Regions from separate parts of the Homo sapiens genome. Here all the other regions are linked to region 2. Evidence: fine-mapped expression QTL. A gene starts in region 2. Each other region holds a variant in brackets. All regions are shown on one strand. Distances are between the middles of the regions.

The links. PIP is the estimated chance that this variant, and not a neighbour inherited with it, causes the effect.
Region 1: its variant is fine-mapped to the expression of KAT2B in whole blood (INTERVAL, PIP 0.99).
Region 3: its variant is fine-mapped to the expression of KAT2B in whole blood (TOPMed, PIP above 0.99).
Region 4: its variant is fine-mapped to the expression of KAT2B in CD4 T cells (CEDAR, PIP 0.92).
Region 5: its variant is fine-mapped to the expression of KAT2B in hypothalamus (GTEx, PIP 0.92).
Region 6: its variant is fine-mapped to the expression of KAT2B in whole blood (TOPMed, PIP above 0.99).

What each region holds. Positions count from the first base shown.
Region 1 is chr3:20,155,401-20,159,491 of GRCh38, forward strand. No RefSeq gene overlaps it. Among named protein-coding and RNA genes, the nearest start is that of SGO1-AS1, 17 kb to the right of the region's middle. The variant C/T (reference allele first, on the strand shown) is at 2,235.
Region 2 is chr3:20,037,907-20,041,997 of GRCh38, forward strand. KAT2B (lysine acetyltransferase 2B) reads left to right here and starts at 2,540. Exons shown (of 18, transcript NM_003884.5): 1 at 2,540-2,874. The coding sequence starts at 2,572. RefSeq lists silencers at 1,802-2,441, 2,612-2,741, 2,942-3,001 and enhancers at 2,165-3,135, 3,852-4,041.
Region 3 is chr3:19,785,533-19,789,623 of GRCh38, forward strand. No RefSeq gene overlaps it. Among named protein-coding and RNA genes, the nearest start is that of EFHB, 150 kb to the right of the region's middle. The variant G/A (reference allele first, on the strand shown) is at 1,993.
Region 4 is chr3:19,847,028-19,851,118 of GRCh38, forward strand. No RefSeq gene overlaps it. Among named protein-coding and RNA genes, the nearest start is that of EFHB, 85 kb to the right of the region's middle. The variant T/A (reference allele first, on the strand shown) is at 1,702.
Region 5 is chr3:20,087,644-20,091,734 of GRCh38, forward strand. The region is part of intron 2 of KAT2B (lysine acetyltransferase 2B); the gene reads left to right. Among named protein-coding and RNA genes, the nearest start is that of MIR3135A, 48 kb to the right of the region's middle. The variant G/A (reference allele first, on the strand shown) is at 2,049.
Region 6 is chr3:20,062,285-20,066,375 of GRCh38, forward strand. The region is part of intron 1 of KAT2B (lysine acetyltransferase 2B); the gene reads left to right. Among named protein-coding and RNA genes, the nearest start is that of KAT2B, 24 kb to the left of the region's middle. The variant A/G (reference allele first, on the strand shown) is at 1,897.

The DNA of each region.
Region 1 (4,091 bases), 120 kb after region 2:
GGAGACTTTGAGGTTTTCATTTTACCTGGACGAACAATTTATATTTTCAGAAACTAAGAAGTAGAAACAAGATCAGACTGAGGTACTGTGGACCAGTTAATTATTTGTCACCCCTTTAAGCTAATATTCTTTAGACTAACCCTCAGTGTTTATTTAAAAGGATTCTAAGTGCCGCACAAGGAAGGGTAACTGGTGGCAGCTCTTGTCGTTAGAGCTATTCTGCTCTATCCCTTAACTAGCATTCTCCTCTTAGCAAAGTGAAAATGCCAAAGAAAAGCAATCAGCTATTCTGGAATATCAAAGGTCAGAAATGGTTGCAAGTTCTTACTTAAGAGGTAGTAATTAGGTTGATACTTTTTTCATCTGTTGAAATATAGGTTTACAATTCTTGACCATTCAGACATTTTTTCCTGGCAGAAAAAAGGTATCTGTGTAGGGGGTAGTGGAGGGTGGACAGGGAAGGTGGTGGCAGGGACTGAAATAGATGGTTCTGAGTCTTAAAGCTGCTGGTATTAAAGTGGTATTTACTTTCTCCTTTGGGTGTATCAGTGCTATCAATAAGTGATGATGAAGATTGACAGGATGAAAACAATGTTACTAATGTCTCAGGTAAAGAGCTGAAAATGAATTTAAAGAGACAAAAAGAGCAAATGAAAGATTTCCAGGTATACTCTGGAGGAAGAGCTTCAACAAAGTAAAAAAAAGATGCTATAAGGAAGTGAGGAAACAACCATAAGCATTATGAAAGGTCCTCTTTAATGTATTTATGTATATATTTATGTATTTATATATAAATATGTAAATTCATATATATATAAATACATAAATATACAAATATATATATTTATATATTTATTTATGGGAACATCTTTACTTGTGGAAAAAGGAAGCTAACAATGACAAAGCTAGAGATTTTCTTTGGGTTTATTAAAAAGCAGTATTATTTCAACAAAGCAGAGAAAAATTAAAAGTCAAGCTTCCTGCTCCCTCTTCTTATTGGGAAGTCCGACAACTTTCACAGGATCAGGAGTTGAAAAAGATGAGAAATGATACGTGTAATTTGTGTGTGTGTATTTATATACATGTATATACATTTATATACAGTTATGTACCACTTAACGATGGGGATACCTTCTGAGATGCAATGTTAGGTGATTTTGTTGGTGTGTGAGCATCCTAGAGTGTACTTACACAGTCCTGAAGCTCCATAGTATGGCCTATGGCTCTTAGGCTAGAAACCTGTATAGCATTTTACTGTACTGAATACTGTAGGCAACTGTAACACAATGGTAAGTATTTGTGTATCTAAACGTATCTAAACATAGAAAAGGTGCAGTAAAAATATGGTATTATAATCTTATGGGACCACCATAGTATACACAGGCTATTGTTGTCCAAAGATCTTCATTTGACATGACTCTGGGTATGTGTATTAAATTTTATGAGCTGAACCAAGGGTTACCAGTCTCAGTTTATCTAGGTTTGAAGTTCTTTAAAAGAAATCCTGGAGAACTTGGAGGCTAAGGACCTTCTGAAAATAATGCACATGTTTACATGTGTGCACTTTCTGCATATCAGTTCACTTGGTCCTTGGACCCTCCTGAAGTTCATTGGTGAACCCCAGTTTAAGAATCTTTGCTCTCACTAGCCTGGGCAACGTAGTGAGACCGTATCTCTATCAATCAAAAAAACAAACAGAAAACATTTAGCCGAGTGTGGTGGTGCACAGTGGTGGTCCCAGCTACTTGGGAAGTTGAGGGGTGGGAGGATTACCTTAGCCTAGGAGGTCAAGGCTATGTGAGCCTTGATTGTACCACTGCACTCCAGCTTGGGTAACAGCGAGACTGTCTCAAAAAAAAAAAAAAAAAAAAAAAAAATCTTTGCTCTGTCAACCTGCCATCTTCTGCTGTTAACAGATGGACATCTAGTTTCTACTTAAAAACATCTGTGAATGGGAAATTTGCATTTTTATGCAATAGTACTGCCCATCAGTGGGACAGGCAAAGCTTTATAAGAAAGCCCGTAGGTTGGGTTGAAGTCAGCTGTTTATGATCAAGCTCTAATTCAAGTTTCCCACAGAGTACTATTAAGTTAGTGTGCCAGCACTGTTCCTATCCCTCAACACACCCAAGCATACTTGTACAGTTGTAGCTATGTGCACAACTCAAGATCCTGTCTACATTTTTAGGCTGGGCACAGTCGCTCATGCCTGTAATCCCAGCACTTTGGGATGC[C/T]GAGGCAGGTGGATCACCTGAGGTCAGGAGTTTGAGACCAGCCTGACCAACATGATGAAACCCTGTCTCTACTGAAAATACAAAATTAGTCGGGCATGGTGGCGCATGCCTGTAATCCCAGCTACTTGGGAGGCTGAGGCAGGAGAATCACTTGAAACTGGGAGGTGGAGGTTGCAGTGAGCTGAGATTGCGTCATTGCACTCCAGCCTGGGCAACAAGAGCGAAACACCATCTCAAAACGAAAAACATTTTTAAAAATTGAGGTATAGTTAACATACAAGAAAATGCACCAGTCAGGCCAGGTGTGGTGGGTCATGCCTATAATCCCAGTACTTTGGGAGGCCAAGGCAGGAGGATCGCTTGAGCCCAGGAGTTTGAGACCAGCCTGGCCAAACATTGTGAGACCCTGTCTCTATTAAAAAGCATAGGTCTTAGGTGCTAAGTTTGATGACTTTTGGCAATTGTCTACACCAGTATAATCACGACCCTAAAGACAGGACATTCTTATCACCTAAGAAAAGTTCCCTCGTGCCCCTTTCAGGTCAATTCTCCTTCCCTGTCTCCAGAAAACCACTTCTGATTTTTGTCACCATAGATTCGTTTTGTGTTACTTGATTTCATATAAATGGGGTCACAGTTTGTACTTCCTGGGGTCTGGCTCATCCACATTGTAATATGTATCAGAAGTTCATTCCTTTTTATTGCTGAAGAGTATACTATTGTAATATTCCACGATTTGTTTATCTTCTCAAGTTTAGTGGACATTTGGGTAGTTTCTACGTTTGGGTCTTACAATAAGCCTGCTATAAACATTTTTTTTGTAGGTCTTTTTGTAAACATATGCTTTCATTTCTCTTATGTGAATACCAAATAGTGAAATTGTTAGGTCAAGAAGTAGATGTGGGCTTAATTTTATAGGACGTTCCCCCTACCCTTGTATTAACCTGTGAGGCATTTTTTATTCCAGTTCCAATATTTACTGTTACCTATTCCTTCTAAGATTTACATTTATAAATTACGAATTTGTCAATTATATGTTTTCTCATATTCATGTTATTGAAAAAAATATTGAACAGGATGAGGGAGAGGATGAAACTTTCCATTATGATGCTGGATACCAATTTGCAAGATGCTAAAGATCAAAATCACTCGAGTGTGATCATGCAGGTGTATGTGAACTCACCTAACAATCCCGATCCAGGCTACATTTCCCACCTTTTCTATAATACCAAGCTGGAATAAATTTTAATTACTCTCTGTTTTACTTATTACATGTATCTTCTTGCACAAATGCTACTTCCCAACACCCTTTATGATGAAACACCATATTTATTATCTTGAGTCTTTTCTCATCAGACACTTTTTTTTTTTTGACAGAGTCTCACTCTGTCGCCCAGACTGGAGTGCAGTGGCGCGATCTCGGCTCACTGCAAGCTCCACTTCCCGGGTCCACGCCATTCTCCTGCCTCAGCCTCCTGAGTATAGACACATGCTTTTCTGCTCAAAGCTATAGTGAGGATGTGTTTAATGTATGTGAAGATGGTCTCAAGTGAATGTAAAACACTATATAAAAATTTTAACTTAACACTATAAATTTAAAAAAGGCTTTTCACCTAAATCAGTATTGAAGTATTGTTAATATGACTATTGTTTTATTTGTACTGGTACTAAGTAGGTTTGAATGAGCAGAAATAATTTAGTGCAGATAGTCAATCTGTGGATGCTGCATAGATTCCCATAACCAAGTAATTTCCTCAGGAATCTACCACTTATCGAGCACTTAGTAAGTGTTAAGCACTCTTCTAAGCATTTGATATGTACTAACTCACTGAATCCTTACAACAATTTACTTATTGA
Region 2 (4,091 bases):
TGGTAGTTATTTCTTAAAAGTACTGTGTGCACAGAAAGAGCACACTGAATGCTTACAACAACCTAATTATGGAAAAGCAATAAGCCTCCTGAATCCTTTGCCCTTGAAATTTCCTTGCCTGGTGCTCATAACACACTTTGAATAGGTCTTGAAACCACGGGCCTTCAGCCTAAGGCAGTATGTCATCTGGGTACTCTGAGCAGGGAAATAATGAAAAATAATGTTCAGTTAATGGCACAAGCCATTCGCCACTCAGACAGTGATGGTTTTCAGAGTGGATTGAAAGGAGATTGGCTACTTCTGCTTCAAAACATCCTGGAAATTGTCTGCCTCCTGAATTCTGAGGGACGCTTGGGAGGAGGAGTTGATAGGTGACTTAATGTTAAATCTGGGTTCCCTCCCCCAATTGTCACTGTGAAAATTTTCAAACATACAGAAAAGTTGAAAGAATTGCGCACTGTGCCCATTACCTAGACTCTATTATATGGACCCCTATTTGCTTTATCATATCTCTGTTCATCCACCCTTTACCCATGCATGGAGGCATCCATACATCTTATTTTTGATGTATCTCAAAGTACAAAGAGCACCATTAGAGTTCAATGCTTGTGATTTTTCTTTTTTTAAAAATTTTTGAGGCAACATTTATATCCAGTGAAATGTACAGATCTCAAGTGGATCATTCCATCAGTTTGACAAATGCCTGCAAGGTGGAACCCAAGCTCTTATTAGTATCTGTTAAATCCATGTTAGAGGTTGATCAGAGAAGCACAGCCTTTAAGACTCTCACCCTGCTTTGCGGAGAATGGCAAAAATCTGCGAAACATCTCAGCAGAGCCAGGAGAGAGTAACACTGGTAACGTGAAGCACGTCAAGCTAAGAAAGGAAGCACTGAAATTAATTGTCCTGAATGGAACCTGATAAGAATCTGCCATTTCATCCCCTCAAGACTGGACTCAAGTTGGGAGAGAATATTGCCTTTTGCCCTGTCTAAGCTAATATCACTGTTTAGATCTACAAACTCCCCCACCTCCCAATGTTTATATATTAACCTGCATTACAAGTCAAAATAACACAGAGAATCTGGAAAAAGAAGAAGGGGAATGTTTCCCACGAAAAGCACACCCCTTAAAGCGTCTGGCCTGAGAGCTATACAGCATGCATAAAATCTGATAATAAGCACATTATGACCCACATTGCATATAACAAAAAGTAGGGCACTTCTGAAGGGTCCTGAGAAAAAGCCCTGGGCTTTTAAAACCTGCTTAAGAAGGCGATCAACGGTACACCACTTTCAAACGCAGCACTGACTTGTATGCTCCACAGTCATCAACAGTGAAAACAACAGTTTTCAACAAGAGTTGGAAACACTGAGTTGAGGGTTTTTTTTTTCTTTTTAAAGTTTGAGGCCAAAATCGATATTTATTCTTTTGAATTATGCTTATATCTTTTTCCTGGTTAATACGCACGCGGTGGCACAATTTTGAAAACTACGTAACGTTATAGAACCACCACCCAGAAACGAATCCTGTTAACAAACTTTTTGTATTCAAACTTTTTCCACTGCATAGTTTTTGACAATGCTTTTTAGACAATCTTTCTTTTAGCAACCAGCACTTTCAAACAAAAATTACAGAGAATAGTAAGTTTTTTTCCCCTCCTCCGGCAGATTTGACCCAGAAATTGCTATGGGAAGAAAGTGTTAATTATATTAAAAAATAGTTTGACAGAAAGTATTTAAAAAGAGAAAGGGAGAACATCACGTCTTTATTTTGGTGAATTAGCAACAAAGAAAAAGATTAGCATGGACGGGTACTTTTCAAAAATATATTTTTTTTCCTCTGGCTCCCGCTAGGGTGGAGGAAGTTGTCTCTCTGTCAGAGACAGGGTGGAAGAGAGTGAAAGGACAAATGATTGAGAGGCTGCCCCCTCCCACTGGTGCAGGCGTGCGGGGGTCGGATGGGGGGCCGCGGAGGGGGGAGGTGGCCAGCAGGTGCCTGGGCTCCAGGCCCCTACCCCCACCCTCGTCCCCACCCTCACCCACACCCAGGGATTGGCCTCGCCCCCTGGCGGGCGAGCGGTAGGTGTCGAAGCACTGGGGTGGGGGGTGCAAACCCCGCGGGCAGCGGAAAAGAGGCCGTGGGGGGCCTCCCAGCGCTGGCAGACACCGTGAGGCTGGCAGCCGCCGGCACGCACACCTAGTCCGCAGTCCCGAGGAACATGTCCGCAGCCAGGGCGCGGAGCAGAGTCCCGGGCAGGAGAACCAAGGGAGGGCGTGTGCTGTGGCGGCGGCGGCAGCGGCAGCGGAGCCGCTAGTCCCCTCCCTCCTGGGGGAGCAGCTGCCGCCGCTGCCGCCGCCGCCACCACCATCAGCGCGCGGGGCCCGGCCAGAGCGAGCCGGGCGAGCGGCGCGCTAGGGGGAGGGCGGGGGCGGGGAGGGGGGTGGGCGAAGGGGGCGGGAGGGCGTGGGGGGAGGGTCTCGCTCTCCCGACTACCAGAGCCCGAGAGGGAGACCCTGGCGGCGGCGGCGGCGCCTGACACTCGGCGCCTCCTGCCGTGCTCCGGGGCGGCATGTCCGAGGCTGGCGGGGCCGGGCCGGGCGGCTGCGGGGCAGGAGCCGGGGCAGGGGCCGGGCCCGGGGCGCTGCCCCCGCAGCCTGCGGCGCTTCCGCCCGCGCCCCCGCAGGGCTCCCCCTGCGCCGCTGCCGCCGGGGGCTCGGGCGCCTGCGGTCCGGCGACGGCAGTGGCTGCAGCGGGCACGGCCGAAGGACCGGGAGGCGGTGGCTCGGCCCGAATCGCCGTGAAGAAAGCGCAACTACGCTCCGCTCCGCGGGCCAAGAAACTGGAGAAACTCGGAGTGTACTCCGCCTGCAAGGTACGCGCTCGCCGCTCTCGGACCGCGGATGGGTGCTAGGGGCCCAGCCCGCGGGACCCCCCTCCCCCTCCCGCTTCCACCTCCGCCTCCCGCCTCCTGCCTCTCGCCTCCCGCCTGGGGCCGCTGCACCGCGGAAGTGCTCTTGTCGCCCGCGCCCAATTAGCTTCTTCTTGGATAAGAGTCCTGCTGGGTTTGAAGAAGGGGGATCACTAAGACGGAGAGCCCTTCATTCCTTCCGCTTGAAAGGAGTAGCTTCGGCATCCGAGCTCCCGGGCTACCTTGGGGTTTTGTTGCTCTGTAGGAGCTCGCTGGAGTCACTTTCCCGGGAGTGGAGCGGTGCTCTCCATGTGGCGGGTGACCCAGGGGCAAGGAAAAATCTTTTGGGGGACTGAGTGGTCCCTTCTGCAATCGATCCCTTCCTGTGTCCCACTGGGAGGAACTGGGTGCAAGGAGTGGGGGTGGAGAAGACTCCCGGACTCCTGGCGCTTTGGGAAAGCGAAGGGGAGGAAAGCGCGGGGTGGGAAGGTGGGCAGAGTCCGAGGCGAGGGTCTTGTGGTGCCTGGCGCCCTCGGCTGGGGGCGGAGGCACTGCCGCGCGCGGTGACAGCCCTGTCATTATTGTATTATTACTTGTTTAGTTAAAACGCTGTCCCAGCTGCTCGAGGTGTAAACAGGATTTGGCAAAGTGACAGCCCAGCGCGGCGGGCGCTACTGCTCAGTTTGAGGACACCCATTTCTTGCTACCCACTCTCCATGCCAGTTTAGGCACCCTGTCACCTCCAGCTGCAGATCCAGATGTGGAGGCTGTGTTCCCGAGGTGGGAGGATTGCCCGAGGCCGCGGGGCAGGCTGGCCCTGCGCTGTCAGCAGCGGCTTTGTTTTGACAGGGTGACAGCTGAGGGGGGCGGGGACTTGGCCTTGTCAGCTCCTGCGGCCTGTGGCTGAGGCAGGGAAGAGACACACTCACACACACTCACACCTCCCTGTATTCTTCCTGCCTGCTGTAAAGAGGGTCAAGTTCCCAGATTCCAGATTCCCGATTGTCACAACCAAGCTGCAGTGACCACTTCTGAATTTTGACATAACTATAATTTATTCTACTAGAACATCTAGGTTATACTCTTCTTGGTACTTGCAGGAGCTTCTCAGTCACAATGGAATGTCTATGCTTGCTCTTTTTCCACACCATATGCTCAGGTTTATGTTAAGCACCTCTGTA
Region 3 (4,091 bases), 250 kb before region 2:
AAATTGGTACCAGTAGAGTGGGGTGTTGCTGAAAAGATACCTGAAAATGTGGAAGCAACTTTGGAACTGGGTAACAGGCAAAGATTGGAACAGTTTGGAGAGCTCAGAAGAAGACAGGAAAATGTGGGAAAGTTTGGAACTTCCTAGAGACTTGTTGAATGTCTTTGACAAGAATGCTCATAGGGATATGAACAATAAGGTCCAGGCTGAGGTGTTCTCAGATGGAGATGAGCAACTTGCTGGGAACTGGAGCAAAGGTGAGGCTTGTTATGTTTTAGCAAAGAGACTGGCAGCATTTTGCCCCTGCCCTAGAGATTTGTGAAACTTTGACAGAGATAATTTAGGGTACCTGGCAGAAGAAATTTCGAAGCAGCAAAGCATTCAAAATGTGACTTGGGTGCTGTTAAAAAGCATTCTGTTTTAAAAGGGAAACAAAGGTTAGGCACGGTGGCTCATGCCTGTAATCCCAGCACTTTGAGAGGCCGAGGTGGGCAGATCACAAGGTCAGGAGATTGAGACCATCCTGGCTAACACGGTGAAACCCCGTCTCTACTAAAAATACAAAACATTAGCTGGGCACGGTGGCGGGCACCTGTGGTCCCAGCTACTTGGGAGGCTGAGGCAGGAGAATGGCATGAACCCGAGAGGCAGAGCTTGCAGTGAGCTGAGATCCCGCCACTGCACTCCAGCCTGGGCGACAGAACCAGACTCCATCTCAAAAAAATAAAATAAAATAAAATAAAATAAAATAAAATAAAATAAAATAAAATAAAACAAAACAAATGGGGAACAGAGCATAAAAGTTCAGAAAATGTGTAGCATGACAATGCAGTAGAAAAGAAAAACCCATTTTTTGAGGAGAAATTCAATCCGATTGCAGAAATCTGCATAAGCAGCAAGGAGCCTAATGTTAATCCCCAAGACCATGGGGAAAATGTCTCCAGGCCATGTCAGAGACCTTCATGGAAGCCCCTCCCTTCACAGGCCCAGAAGCCCAGTAGGAAAAAGTGGTTTCATGGGCTGTGCCCAGGGTCCCCCTGTTGTGTGCAGCCTAGGGACTTGGTGCCCTGAGTCCCAGCCACTCCAGCCATGGCTGAAAGGGGCCAATGTAGAGGAGCTCAGGCTGTGGCTTCAGAGGATGGAAGCCCCAAGTCTTGGCAGCCTCCATGTAGTATTGAGCCTGTGGATGCACAGAAGAACTGAGGTTTGGGAACCTCTGCCTAGATTTCAGGCCAGGAAACGCCTGGCTGCTCAGGCAAAAGTTTGCTGCAGGGGTGGGGCCCTCATGGAGAACCTCTGCTAGGGCAGTGCAGAAGGGAAATGTGGTGGTGGAGCCCCCACAGAGTCCTTACTGAGGCACTGCCTAGTGGAGTTGTGAGAAGAGGGCCACCGTCTTCCAGAGGCCAGAATGGCAGATCCACTGACAGCTTGTACTGTGTGCCTGGAAACGCCGCAGACACTCACCGCCAGTCCGTGAAAGCAGCCAGGAGGGAGGCTGTACCCTGCAAACCACAGGGGCAGAGCTGTCCAAGACCATGGGAACCCACCTCTTGCATCAATGTGACCTGGATGTGAGACCTGGATACAAAGAAGATTATTTTGGAGCTTTAAAATTTGACTGCCCCACTGGATTTCAGACTTGCATGGGCCCTGTAACCCCTAGGTTTTGGCCAGTTTCTCCCATGTGGAATGGCTGTATTTACCCAATACCTGTACCTGCATTGTACCTAGGAAGTAACTAGCTTGCTTCTGATTTTACAGGCTCATAAGTGGAAGGGACTTGCCTTGTCTCAGATGATACTCTGAACTGTGGACTTTTGGGTTAATGCTGAAATGAATGAAGACTTTGGGGGACTGTTGGGAAGGAGTGATTGGTTTTGAAATGTGTGGACATGAGATTTGGAGGGGCCAAGGACAGAATGATATGGTTTGGCTGTATCCCCACCCAAATCTCATCTTGAATTGTATCTCCCAGAATTCCCACGTGTTGTG[G/A]GAGGGACCCAGGGGGAGGTAGTTGAATCATGGGGGCCAGTCTTTCCCATGCTATTCTTATGATAATGAATAAGTCTCACGAGATCTGATGGGTTTATCAGGGATTTTTGCTTTTGCTTCCTCCCATTTTTTTCTCTTCCCACTATGTAAAAAGTGCCTTTCACCTCCCACCATGATTCTGAGGCCTCCCCAGCAATGTAGAACTGTAAGTCCAATTAAACCTCTTTTTCCTCCCAGTTTCAGGTATGTTTTTATCAGCAATGTGAGAACAAATTAATACAGTACCCATAATAATTAAAAATACTTTAAAACAAAAAATAAATAACCAGAAGTCCACTTTTAAAGTATGTCCTCAATAGGACTTTTTAAATTATTATTATATTTTAAGTTCTAGGGTACATGTGCACAATGTGCAGGTTTGTTACATATGTATACATGCACCATGTTGGTGTGCTGCACCCAGACCACAGTGCAATCAAACTAGAAATCAGGATTAAGAAACTCACTCAAAACTGCTCAACCACATGGAAACTGAACAACCTGCTCCTCAATGACTACTGGGTACATAACGAAATGAAGGCAGAAATAAAGATGTTCTTTGAAACCAATGAGAATAAAGACACAACATACCAGAATCTCTGGGACACATTTAAAGCAGTGTGTAGAGGGAAATTTATAGCACTAAATGCCCACAAGAGAAAGCAGGAAAGATCTAAAATTGACACCCTAACATCACAATTAAAAGAACTAGAGAAGCAAGAGCAAACACATTCAAAAGCTAGCAGAAGGCAAGAAATAACTAAGATCAGAGAAGAACTGAAGGAGATAGAGACACAAGAAACCCTTCAAAAAAATCAAGGAATCCAGGAGCTGGTTTTTTGAAAAGATCAACAAAATTGATAGACCGCTAGCAAGACTAATGAAGAAAAGAGAGAAGAATCAAATAGATGCAATAAAAAATGATAAAGGGGATATCACCACCGATCCCACAGAAATACAAACTACCATCAGAGAATACTATAAACACCTCTACACAAATAAACTAGAAAATCTAGAAGAAATGGATAAGTTCCTGGACACATACACTCTCCCAAGACTAAACCAGGAAGAAGTTGAATCCCTGAATAGACCAATAACAGGCTCTGAAATTGAGGCAATAATTAATAGCCTACTAACCAAAAAAAGTCTAGGACCAGACGGATTCACAGCCGAATTCTACCAGAGGTACAAGGAGGGGCTGGTACCATTCCTTCTGAAACTATTCCAATCAATAGAAAAAGAGGGAATCCTCCCTAACTCATTTTATGAGGCCAGCATCATCCTGACACCAATGCCTGGCAGAGACACAACAAAAAAAAGAGAATTTTAGACCAATATCCCTGATGAACATTGATGCAAAAATCCTCAATAAAATACTGGCAAACCAAATCCAGCAGCACATCAAAAAGCTCAATAGGACATTTTTAAGAAATGTCATGAGACCTCAATGAAGATATATTGTTTTCAAATCATCTAGAAAGTTTTAGGACACTTCTGTAAGAGTCTTGAGTGATATATCACTTCAGCATTTAGCTCTCCAGACATCTGCCTGTCATCTGTATGCACCTAGTTTTCTTTAGGAAAATTTTGACTTCACCCTCACCAGTAAACAGAACTCAGCACTGCACAAGACAATAGTAAGAAATCAGGTTTTATTAAAAGATTTTAAGAAGATAAGGAGAAGAGATTTACATTAGTCACATTCCCTGGTTGTCTAGTGGTTAGGAAAAAAAATACACTACTCACATACTTCCATAATGTTCACAGAAATTGGAGATTCAAAAAAAATGGACTAAAATAGTATTTAAACTCTTCCTACCAACAAAAAGTCTAGAAGTGCTACATAAAACATAACCATCCTTAGGTTTTTTTTTTTCTTCTTCTTTCTTTTTTTTAATTTAGCTTTACAGGAAAGAGAAATCCCTAGGTGCTAGAAGATAAAAAGAAGCTAAATATTAGAGTAGCATGAGTTTGCTCTGAATTAGACTTCCCTGGAGGATAGGTGTAAAGCTTGGCAGTTAAGAGTTGAGGTTTGTTTGGGATTTTTTAAATTAATTTTA
Region 4 (4,091 bases), 190 kb before region 2:
GTTTTATCTAAAAGCCCCTGACTCGGGCTGCTGCCTTTCTTTCAGAGATGCCCTGCCCAGAGAGGAGGAATCTAGACCAAATGGATTTTTTAAAGTGGTATATATATACACATACACAATTGAATACTATTCCACCATAAAAAAAAAAGAATAAAATCCTGTCATTCATGGCAATATGGATGGAACTGGAGGATATTATGTTAAGTCAAATAAGCCAGAAATACTGAGACAGATGGGCCTGTAAAGTAATAAGGCCAGACACAGCGGCTCATATCTGTAATCCCAGCACTTTCAGAGGTCAAGGTGGGAGGATCACTTGAGCCCAGGAATTTGAGACCAGCCTGGGCAACAGAGGAAGACCCTGTCTCTACAAACGACAGGGTGGCCAGGCCTGGTGGTGCATGCCTATAGTCCTATCTACTCAGGAGGCTAAAGTATGAGGACTGTTTAAACCCAGAAGGTTGAGGCTACAGTGAGCCATAATCACACCCCTGTACTCTGGCCTGAGGGACAGAGTGAGGTCCTGTCTTAAATAATAATAATAATAATCATCATCATCATCATTATCATTATCATCATCAACATCATCATTACCTAGAAACAGAAAATTGAACACTGCATATTTTTACCTATGTATGGAAGCTTAAAAAGGTTGATTTCATGTAAGTTAAAAGTAGAACAGAGGATACTAGAGTTTGGGAAGAGTAGGGAGAAGGGAGGGATAGGGAGAAGTTTTTCAGGGATACGATTACAGTGAGATAGGAGGAATAAGTTTCAGTGTTCTATTCCACTGAATTACTATAGGTAACAATACATTATTATGTAGTTTCAAATAGCTACAAGTAGAACATTGAACATTGCCAAAACAAAGAAATGATAAATGTTTGAGATGATAAATATGCTAATTACTCTGATCTGATTACTGTACATTATATGCATTGAAATATCACTATGTTTACCATGAATATGTACAATGGTTGTCAATGAAAAAAATTAAAATATTACATAAAGAAACAAAATATTCTTTAATATTATAAAATATAATATGAATGAATGTTCTGTAGTAAATATAATGTTATTTAACATTCTTTTAAAAATTGGAAGCAACAAAGATAGCCTTCAATAGGTGAAAATGTGGTACATCCAGACAATGGAATGTTATTCATCAATAAACAGAAATGAACAAAAAAGCTGGCTGGGCACAGTGGCTCATGCCTGTAATTCGAGCACACTGGGAGGCCGAGGTGGGTGAATCACCTGAAGTCAGGAGTTCAAGACCAGCATGGTCAACATAGTGAAACCCCGTCTCTACTAAAAATACAATAATCAGCTGGCTATGGTGGCAGGTGCTGTAATCTCAGCTACTCAGGAGGCTAAGGCAGGAGAATCACTTGAACCCAGGAGGTGGAGGCTGCAGTGAGCCAAGATTGCACTCCAACCTGGGTGACAGAGTGAGACTCTGTCTCAAAAAAAATTAAAAAATAATACAGGATATGGATGAAAAATCTCCAGAGAAATAGATATTATAAATAGAAAACAATCACAACTTCTGGAAATGAAAGACACACTTAGAGAAAGGCAAAATATACTGGAAAGTTTCAAGAATACAAGCCAACAAATAGAAGAAAGAATTTCAGAGCTCAAAGACATGGCTTTTAAATTAATCCAATCTGACAAAGCCAAAAAAAGAGGAATTTTTTT[T/A]AAAAATGAGCAAAGCCTCTAAGAAGTGTGGAATTATGTTAAACAACTAAATCTAAGAATAATTGGTGTTCCTGAGGAAGAAAAGAAATCTAAAAGTTTGGGAAATGTCTTTGAGGGAATAATTAAGGAAACCTTCCCTGGCCTTGTTACAGGTCTAGACATCCAAATACAAGAAGTTCAAAGAACACCTGGGTAATTCATCACAAAAAGATTATCACCTAGGCATAGTCATCAGGCTATCTAAGGTAAACATAAAAGAAAGAGCCTTAACAGCTGTGAGGCAAAAGCATCAGGTAACCTATAAAGGGGAACCTATCAGATTAACAGCAGATTTCTCGGCAGAAACCCTACAAGCTAGAACGGATTGGCGTTCTATCTTTAGCCACCTTAAACAAAATAATTATCAGCCAAGAATGTCATATCCAGCAAAACTAAGCTTCATAAATAAAGGAGGAATAAAGTCTTTTTCAGAAAAACGAATGCTGAGAGAATTCACCACTACCAAGTCACCACTACAAGAAATGATAAAAGAATTCCAAATCTTGAAAGAAAAGCTCAAAACACACCAAAATAAAACTTCCTTAAAGCATAAATCTCACAGGGCCTATAAAACATAACACAATGGAAAAAGAAAAACAAAATGTTCAAACAACAACTAGCATGATGAATAGAATAGTATCTCAAATCTCAATACTAACATTGAATGGAAATGGCTTAAATGAGCCACTTAAAAGATATAGAATGGCAAAATGGATAAGAATTCACCAACCAAGTATCTGCTTTCTTCCAGAGACTCACCTAACACATGACTCACATAAACGTAAGAGAAAGGGGAGGAAAAGATATTCCATGCAAATGGACACCAAGAGTGAGAAGGAGTAGCTAGTCAATGTCAGACAAAACAGACTTCAAAGCAATAACAGTTAAATGTTAATGTCAATGTCAGACAAAACAGACTTCAAAGCAATAACAGTTAAAAAACAAAAAAAAATTAAAAAATTAAAAAGCAGCAACAGTTAAAAAAGACAAATATAATGATAAAAGGACTAGTTCAACAGGAAAATATCATAATCTTTCACCTAACACTAGAGCGTCCAAATTAATAAAACATATATGCATCTAACACTGAAGCTCCCAAATTTGTAAAGCAATTACTACTAGACCTAAGAAATAAGATAGACAGCAACACAATAATAGTGGAGGGACTTCAATGCTCCACTGACAGCACTAGACAGTTCATAAAGACAGAAAGTGAACAAAGAACAAATGGACTTAAACTATACCCTAGAAAAAATGGACTTAACAGATATTTACAGAACATTTTACCCAACAACTGCAGAATGTATCTTCTATTCATCAGCACATGGAATATTCTCCAAGATACATGATATCATAGGCCACAGAACAAACCTTAATAAATTTAAGAAAATCAAAATTATATCAAGTACTCCCTCAGACCACAGTGGAATAAAATTGGAAATCAACTTCAAAAGGAACCCTCAAAATCAGGAAAATACATGGAAATTAAATGATCTGTTCATGAATGATGTTTGGGTCAGCAATGAAATCAAGATGAAAATTTAAAAATTCTTTGAACTGAACGATGATAGTGACACAATCTATCAAAACCTCTGCAATACAGCAAAAGCAGCGCTAAGAGGAAAGTTCATAGCATTAAATGCCTACATCAAAAAGTCTGAAAGAGCACAAATAGACAAGCTAAGGTCACACCTCAGGGAACTAGAGAAACAAGGACAAACCAAACCCAAACACAGCAGAAGAAAATAAACATCAAAGCAGAAATAAATAAAATTGAAACAAAACAAACAATACAAGAGATAAAAGAAATGAAAAGCTACTTCCTTGAAAAGATAAATAAAACTGATAGATCATTAGCAACATTAACCAAGAAAAGAAGAGAGAAGAGCCAAATAAACTTTATTAGAAATGAAACTGGAGGTACTACAACTGATACCACAGAAACACAAAAGATCATTCAAAGCTACTATGAATACCTTTATGCACACAAACTAGAAAACCTAGAGGTGATGGATAAATTCCTGGAAATGTACAAACCTCCTAAATTAAGCCAGGAAGAAATAGAAACTCTCAACAGACCAATAACAAGCAATGAGATTGAAAAAAAAAAAAAAAAACTGCCAACAAAAGAAAGTCCAGGGCCAGATGGATTCACAGCTGAATTCAATCAGACAATCAAGGAAGAGGTGGTACTACTGAAACTATTCCAAAAAATAGAGGGAGAATCCTCCCTAAATCATTATATAAACCCATATTATCCTAATACCAAGACCAGGAAGGGATGTAACAACAACAACAAAAAAACAAAACAAACAAAAAAAAACTACAGACCAATATCCTTGATGAACTTA
Region 5 (4,091 bases), 50 kb after region 2:
CAGCATCTCTACCCGTACCTCACGTTCCAAGTCCCTAATAACCATCATTTTACTTTCTGCTTCTGTGATTCTGACTTTTTAAGATTCTACATACAAATAAGATCATGCAGTATTTGTCTTTCTGTGCCTGGCTTATTTCACTTAGCCTTAAGACAGGCTCTCACTTTGTTGTCCAGGCCAGAATGCAGTGGTACAATCATAGTTCACTGTAGCCTCAAACTCCTGGGCTCAAGGGATCCTCTTGCCTTAGGTTGCTAAGTAACTAGGGCTACAGATCTGAGCCACCATACCTAGCTAATTAAAAAAAAATTTTTTTTTGTAGAGACAGGGTCTTGCCATCTTACCAAGGCTGGTCTTGAACTGGGCTCAAGCAGTCCTCCTACTTCAGCCTTCCAAAGTGCTAGGATTACAGGTGTGAGCCACTGTGCCTGGCCATTTCCTTAGTTTTTAAGGCTGAATAGTATTTGATTGTGTTCATATACTACATTCTCTTTATCCATTCATTTGTTGGGGTGGACACTTAGGTAAATTCCATATTTTGGCTATTGTGAATAATGCTGCAGTGAATATGGGAATGCAGATGTCTTTTTGACATACTGATTTCCTTTTCTTTGGATATATATCCAGAAGTGGAATTGCTGGGTCAGGTCATATGGTAGTTCTGTTTTGGATTTTTTGAGACATATCCATATGGTTTACCATACTGGCTGTACTAATTTACATTCCCACCAACAGTGTGCAAGGGTTCCTTGTCCTCACATTCTTGCCAACACTCATCTTTCATCTTTTTGATAATAGCTATCCTGAGCGTGAAGTGATATCTCATTGTGATTTTAATTTGCATTTCTCTGATTAGTGATGTTGAACATTTTTCCATATACCTGTTGGCCATTTGTATGTCTTCTTTTGAGAAATGTCTGTTCATATCCTTTGCACATTTTAAAATTGGGTTGTTTTCTTACCATTGAGTTGTATAAGTTCCTTATATATTTTGGATATTAGCTTCATCAAATGTATGGTGTGAAAATGTTCTCTTCCATTCCATAGGTTGTCTCTTTACTCTGTTGATTGTTTCTTTTCCTATATAGAAGCTTTTTAGTTTGATGCAATCCAGTTTGTCTATTTTTGTTTTGTTGCCTGTGCTTTTTGATCATATTCAAAAAATCTTTGCGAAGACCAATGTCAAGAAGCTTTTTCCTATGTTTCCTTCTAGTAGTTTTACAGTTTCAGGTCTATATTTAAGTCTTTAGTCCATTTTGAATAGGTTTTTGTATATGGTATGAGATAAGGGTCTAATTTCATTCTTTTGCATGTGGATATCCGGTTGTCCCAACAGCATTTATTGAAGAGACTGTCCCTTCCCCTTGGCATCTTTGTTGAAAATCAGTTGACTGTAAATGGATAGATTTCTGGGCTGTCTATTCTGTTCAGTTGGTCTATGTATTTGTTTTTTATGTTGGTAGCATTTTGTTTTGATTGAGATAGCTTTGTAGTAGATTTTGAAATCAAGTGTAGTGTGATGACTCTGCCTTTGTTCTTTTTGCTCAAGATTGCTTTGGCTATTTGGAGTCTTATGTAGTTCTGTACAGATTTTAAGATTATTTTTTCTATTTCTGTGAAAAATGTCATTGGAATTTTGATAGGGATTGCATTGAATCTGTAGATCACTTTGGGTAATATGGACATTTTAACAGTATTAATTCTTCCAATCTGTGAACATAAAAGATATCTTATCACTTATTCGTGTCTTCTTCACTTTTTTTTTTTTTTTTTTTGAGATGGAGTCTCACCTTGTCACCCAAACTGGAGTGCAATGGCGCAATCTCAGCTCACTGCAACCTCTGCCTCCCAGGTTCAAGTGATTCTTCTGCCTCAGCCTCCTGAGTAGCTGAGATTACAGGCGTGCGCCACCATGCCCGGCTAATTTTTTTTATCTTTAGTGGAGATGGGTTTTCACCATATTAGCCAGGCTGGTCTCAAGCTCCTGACCTTGTGATTTGCCTGCCTCAGCCTCCCAAAGTGCTGGGACTCCCAGTGTGAGCCACTGC[G/A]CCTGGCCTACTTTCTTTCATCAGTGTTTTATAGTTTGCAGTGTACATATCTTTCATCTCCTTGGCTAAATTTATTCCTAGGTATTTGATTGTTTTTGATGCTGTTATAAATGAGATTGTTTCCTTGATTTTTTGTTTTGTTTTGATAGTTTGTTGTTAGTATACAGAAACATGGCTGGGCATGGTTACTCTTGCCTGTAATCCCAATGCTTTAGGAGGTGGAAGGATTGCTTGAGCCCAGAATTTGAGAAGAACAGCTTGGACAACATAGTGAGAAGCCATCTCTATTAAAAAACAAACAAACAAAAAAACAAAACAAGAAAAAAAAAAACGAATGGTACTGATCTTTGTGTGTTGATTTTGTATCCTGCAACTTTACTGAGTTTGTTTATTAGTTTTAAAAGCTTTTTGGTGGTGTCTTTAGGGTTTTCTGTTTATAAAATTATGTTATCTGCAGAGACAATTTAACTTCTTCTTTTCTGATTTGGATACTTTCATTTCTTTTTCTTACTTAATTGCTTTGGCTAGGACTTCCAATACTACGTTGAAAAGAAGTGGCAAGGGTGGGTATATTTTTCTTGTTCTTAATCTTAAAGGAAAAGCTTTCAGCTTCTCACCATTGAGTGTGATGTTAATTGTGGGTTTGTCACATACGGCCTTTTTGTGTTGAGGTACAGCACATTCCCTCTATGCCTAATTTGTTGAGAGTTTTTATCATGAAAGGATGTTGAATTTTGTCAAATGCTTTTTCTGTATCTTTAGAGATTACCATATGATTTTTCTCCTTCATTCTGTTAATTTGCTGTATCAATTTATTGCTGAACCATCCTTGCATCCCTGGGATTAATTCCTCTTGCTCGTGGTGAAGGATTCTTTTAATCTGCTGTTGAATTCAGATTGCTGGTTTTCTGTTGTGTATTTTTGCATCCATGTTCATCAGGGATATTGGCCTGTAATATTCTTTTCTTGTAGTTTCCTTGTCTGGCTTTGGTATTAGTATAATGCTGACCTTGTAAAGTGAGTTTGGAAGTATGCATCCCTCTTCAGTTTTTTGAAGTTTTTTTTTAGAGTTTCACTTTGTCATAAAGGCTGGAGTATAGTGGCACAAGCATGGGTCACTGCAACCTCAATCTTGTGGGGTGGGTTCAAGCAATCCTCCAACCTCAGCCTCCTGAGTAGCTGGGACTACAGGCATGTGACACCACACCTGCCTAATTTTTATTTATTTATTTTTATTTTTTGTAGAAACAGGGTCTCACTATGTTGTGCAGGCTTGTCTTGAACTCCTAGGCTTAAGCATTTCTCCTACCTCAGCCTCCTGAAGTGCTGGGATTATAGGCATGAGCCACTGCACTTGGGCTTTTTGAAGAGTTTGAGAATTAGTATTAGTTCTTTTTAAAGTGTTTGGTAGAATTCAGCCTTGAAGCCATCAGGTCCTGGGCTTTTCCATGATGGAAGATTTTTTATTTAATTACTGATTCAGTCTCCTTACTTGTTATTAGTTTGTTCAGATTTTCTATATTTTCATGATTTAGTTTTGGTAGGTTGTACATTTTCAGGAATTTACCCATTTCTTTTAGATTATCCAATTTATTGACATAACTGTTCATCATAATCTCTTATAATCCTTTGTATTTCTGTGGTATCAGTTATAATGTCTCCTTTTTCATTTCTTATTTTGAGTCTTCTCTTTTATTTCTTTTGTAGTCCAGCTAAAAGTTTGTCCATTTTTTTTATCTTTTCAAAGAACCAACTTTTAGTTTTGTTGATCTTTTCTATTGTTTTTCTTGTTTCCATTTATTTCTGCTCTGATCTTTTTTGTTTACTCTTTCTACTAACTTTGGACTTTAGTTCGTTCTTCTTTGTCTAGTTCTTTGAGGTGTAACATTAGGTTGTTCATTTGAGATCTTTTTTCTTTTTTAATATAGGCATTTATTGCCATAAGCTTCTTTCTTAGAACTGCTTTTGCTGCATTTTGTAAGTTTTGGTATATTGTATTTCCACTTCTGTTTGTCTTAAGATATTTTTAAATTTCCCTTTTAA
Region 6 (4,091 bases), 24 kb after region 2:
ATAATATATAATATATAAAATATAATATATATAAAATATTTATTATGTATAAAATATAATATATAATATATTTTATATATAATTTATAATATATTATATATAACATAATAAATTATATATTATATATTATATATTATTATATATAATATATAATATATAGAAATTATATATATTTTATTTTATATATATATATATTAGAGGTAGTTTTGCTCTGTCACCCAGGCTGGAGTGCAGTGGCATGATCTCGGCTCATTGTAACGTCTGCCTCCTGGGTTCAAGCGATTCTCTTGCCTCAGCTTCCCGAGTAGCTGGGATTACAGGCATGCGCCGCCACGCCCAGCCAATTTTTGTGTTTTTAGTAGAGACGGGGTTTCGCCTTGTTTGCCAGACTGGTCTTGCATTCCTGAGCTCAGGTGATCCACCTGCCTCAGCCTCTCAAAGTATTGGGATTACAGGCGTGAGTCACCGTGCCTGGCCCATTTTCATAATTATTAATGATGTTGAGCATCTTTTCATGTGTTTATTGACCATTTGTATATTTTCTTTGGAGAAGTGTCTGCTCAAGTCCTTTGCCCATTGTAAAATTTCGTTGTTGTTGTTGTTGTTGAGTTGTAGGCATTCTTTATATATTTTGGATATTAACCTGTTATCAAATATATGGTTTGCAAATATTTTCTCCCATTCTCTGGGTTGCCTTTTCACTCTGTTGTGTATGTCTTTTGGTGCACAGAAATTTAAAGTTTTTCCTAATTCCAGTTTATCTGTTTTTCTTTTGTTGCCTGTGTTTTTGTTATTTATTTTTAGACAGTATCTTGCTCTGTTTCCCAGGCTGGAGTACAGTGGCACAGTCATGGCCCATTGCTGCCTCGAATTCCTAGGCTCAAGGGATCTGCCTGCCTCAGCCTTCTGAGTGGCTGTGACTGCAGGCGTGCACCACTATGTCCAGCTAATTTTTAAAATTTTTGTAGAGATGGAGTCTTGTTTGTTGCTCAGGCTGGTCTTGAACTCCTGACCTTCCCAGCGTGCTGGGATTATACACCTGAGCCACCACACCTGGCCGCCTGTGCTTTTGGTATTATATCCAAGACACCATTGCCTGATCTAGTATCATGAAGATTTTTTCTGTATTTTCTTTTAAGAGATTCTTTCTTTCTTTCTTTTTTTTTCTTTTGAGATGGGGTCTCGCCCTGTTGCTCAGGCTGGAGTGCAGTGGTGCGATCTCACCTCACAGCAACTTCTGAGTAGGCCTCTTTTTTTTTTTTTTTTTTTTTTTTTTTTTTGAGATGGTTGCTCTGTTGCCCAGGCTGGAATGTAGTGGCACAATCTCAGCTCACTGCAACCTCTGCCTCCCAGGTTCAAGCAATTCTCCTGCCTCAGCCTCCCAAGTAGCTGGGATTACAGACGTGAGCCACCATGCCCGGTTAATTTTTGTATTTTTAGTAGTGACAGGGTTTCACCATGTTGGCCAGGCTGGTCTTGAACTCCTGACCTCGTGATCCAACTGCTTCGGCCTCCCCAAGTGCTGGGATTACAGACGTGAGCCACCACGCCCGGCCGAGATTCACAATTTTATGTTGAAGTCTTTCATCTATTTTGAGTTCATTTGTGTGTGTGTTATTAGCTAAGGGTCCAGCTTCATTCTTGTGCACACAGATACCTAGTTTTTCCAGCACCATTTATTGAAAAGACTGTCCTTTCTCTATTGAATGGTCTTGGCACACTTGTCAAAATCATTTGACCATTATCTGTGAGGGTTTATTTCTGGGCTATCTATTCTGTTCCATTAGTATATAAGAAGCTAGCAAACTGTTTTCCAAGGTGGTTGTACCTTGTTACATCCCACAAACACTGTATGAGGATTCCAATTTTTCACATGCCTGATAATTTGTTATTGTC[A/G]GCTCCTTTTGAAAAAAGAACTTATTTTGTGTTTAATTGACACCTAATAATTATACATATTGATGGGGGCATAGTGTGGTGTTTTGAAACATGTATACATTGTGTAATGGCCAAATCAGTGTAATTAGCATGTTCATCACCTCAATCACTTGTCATTTCTTTGTGATGAGAACATTCAAAATCCTCTCTTGTAGCTATTTTGTAATATGCAATATATTATTGTTAACTATAGTCACTCTGCTGTGCGATAGAACACCAGAATTTACTCCTCCTATCTATATTTGGTTAGAGAGATCTTATTGGGTGAGAAGTTACGGTTTTGATCCTTGACATTTAAACATTATGACTTTGTCCAGCATGGAGCAGAGAGGTAGTGAATAAGAGTGAGTCCTTCCTCTCTCACAACCACAGTGCCAGTTACCTGCCTGGACACATTTTGTGCATCTGCAGGGTAGAATGAGTAACCCCAGGCAAGTCTCTTATCACCTAGAGCCTCAGCTTTCTCTTTTAATAATGGCAATAATTCATACTTTACTTACATCGAGTGAGATAAGAGTACATGTACATTTTTAATTTTGGGTGCTAAATAAATGTTGGATCAGTTATACTGAATAAATTTTCCATCAACGTGTTCTTGCTGTGGGACATCCTTGACACTAATTTAAGTTTTCCAACAAATGCGACTTTCCAATATTTTAAGCATGACAGAATTTTGCTAGACAGCTGGCTGTCTTTCTCCTGTTCCTCTGGATGCCACTCAAATATCTTCACACCCATCTCACTCATTAACACTGCGTGAACTGTGAGCTCTCCACCCCTTGTCTGTCTGTAATCTGGGTTGTGACTACTTGTTTATCCAGTTTATCTTCTTTCTCATCATCCATCCTGGTTTCTGCATACTATAACAACATCGGTTGCATACTATTGACCTCTAACCCTGGATCCTGTTGGGATGAAAACATTATCCCAGTCCTGTTGAAAGTAGTGCAGTGGCCTTTTCTTCTTTCTTGGTTCTGCAATGTCTGCAGAGATGTGCTCTTGGGGGGATGAAGTCATCTGGGTAGCTTTCCCCTCCCTGTGCCCAGGTTGCTAGCTGCTACAGTAATTGGCTTGGCAGTGCACTCCCTAAAAGGTTGTCCTTCAGCTGGTACTTCATTAAAGCTGCAAGGCCAACTCCCTTGGGAGTTCCCTTAGACAGCAGCTGTCATGCCTAATTAAGGAGAGACATGGGAAAGGTGTTTTGAAAGGAGACCTCTTATCTCGAAGAACAGTGGCCAGGCCTGAACATTGGAATGGGGAGATGAAGGCCAAAGTGGAGGGCATGGTAGCAGCAGCTCAGAAAACTTGGCAGAAAATGCTTTGCTGGCAGTCAAGGATAAGAGCATTGACTGTTTTTTAAAGGACACAGTATGTCCTTTTTAGCAAATCAAGTAACGAGTCCCATATATATTAAAAATTTTGTACACTTAGGTTGTTAGGTGTCCCATGGAGCATGCACACATGCAAGAACCAATTTTCATATCCTGCAAAAAATACTGAAACAAGTAAGGAAAACTCAAGGGATTCTCATATATATCAATAGGGTATAACTTTAAAGAGTTAGGACCACTTAGGGATGCTGAGACTATTCTATGCTTAAACTGTTAGGGTCCATAGTGAAGACCTGGGGCTTGGGGGTGGAGTCCCTTTATAGTCTAGTGCACCAATATCCAATAGTAATATGGAGGCCGCATGTATTATTTAACATTTTCTAGTAGTCCTGTGTATTAGTTTCTTAGGCCTGTCATAACAAATAACCACAAAATATGTGGCTTAAAACAACAAATACAGTTTTTTTTTTATTCACAGTTTTGGAGGCTAGAAGTCTGAGATCAAGATGTCATCTGGGCCACACTCCTTTTGAAGGCTGTAGGGAAGAATCTTTCCTTGCCTCTTCCTAGCATCTGGTGGTGCTTGGCAATCCTTGGCATTCTTTGGCTTATAGTGAGACCCTGGTCTGTCTCATAGTGAGATCCAGCCTCTGCTTCTATCTTCACTTGGCCTTCTTTACTGTTTGTCTGTGTCTGTCTCCAAATCTCCTTCTTCTTTCTCTTAGGAAAACGCCAGTCATTGGTTTTAGGGCTTAGGATAATTTCATCTGCATGTCCTTAACTGATCACATCTGCAATGAACCTATTTCCAAATATGGCCCCATT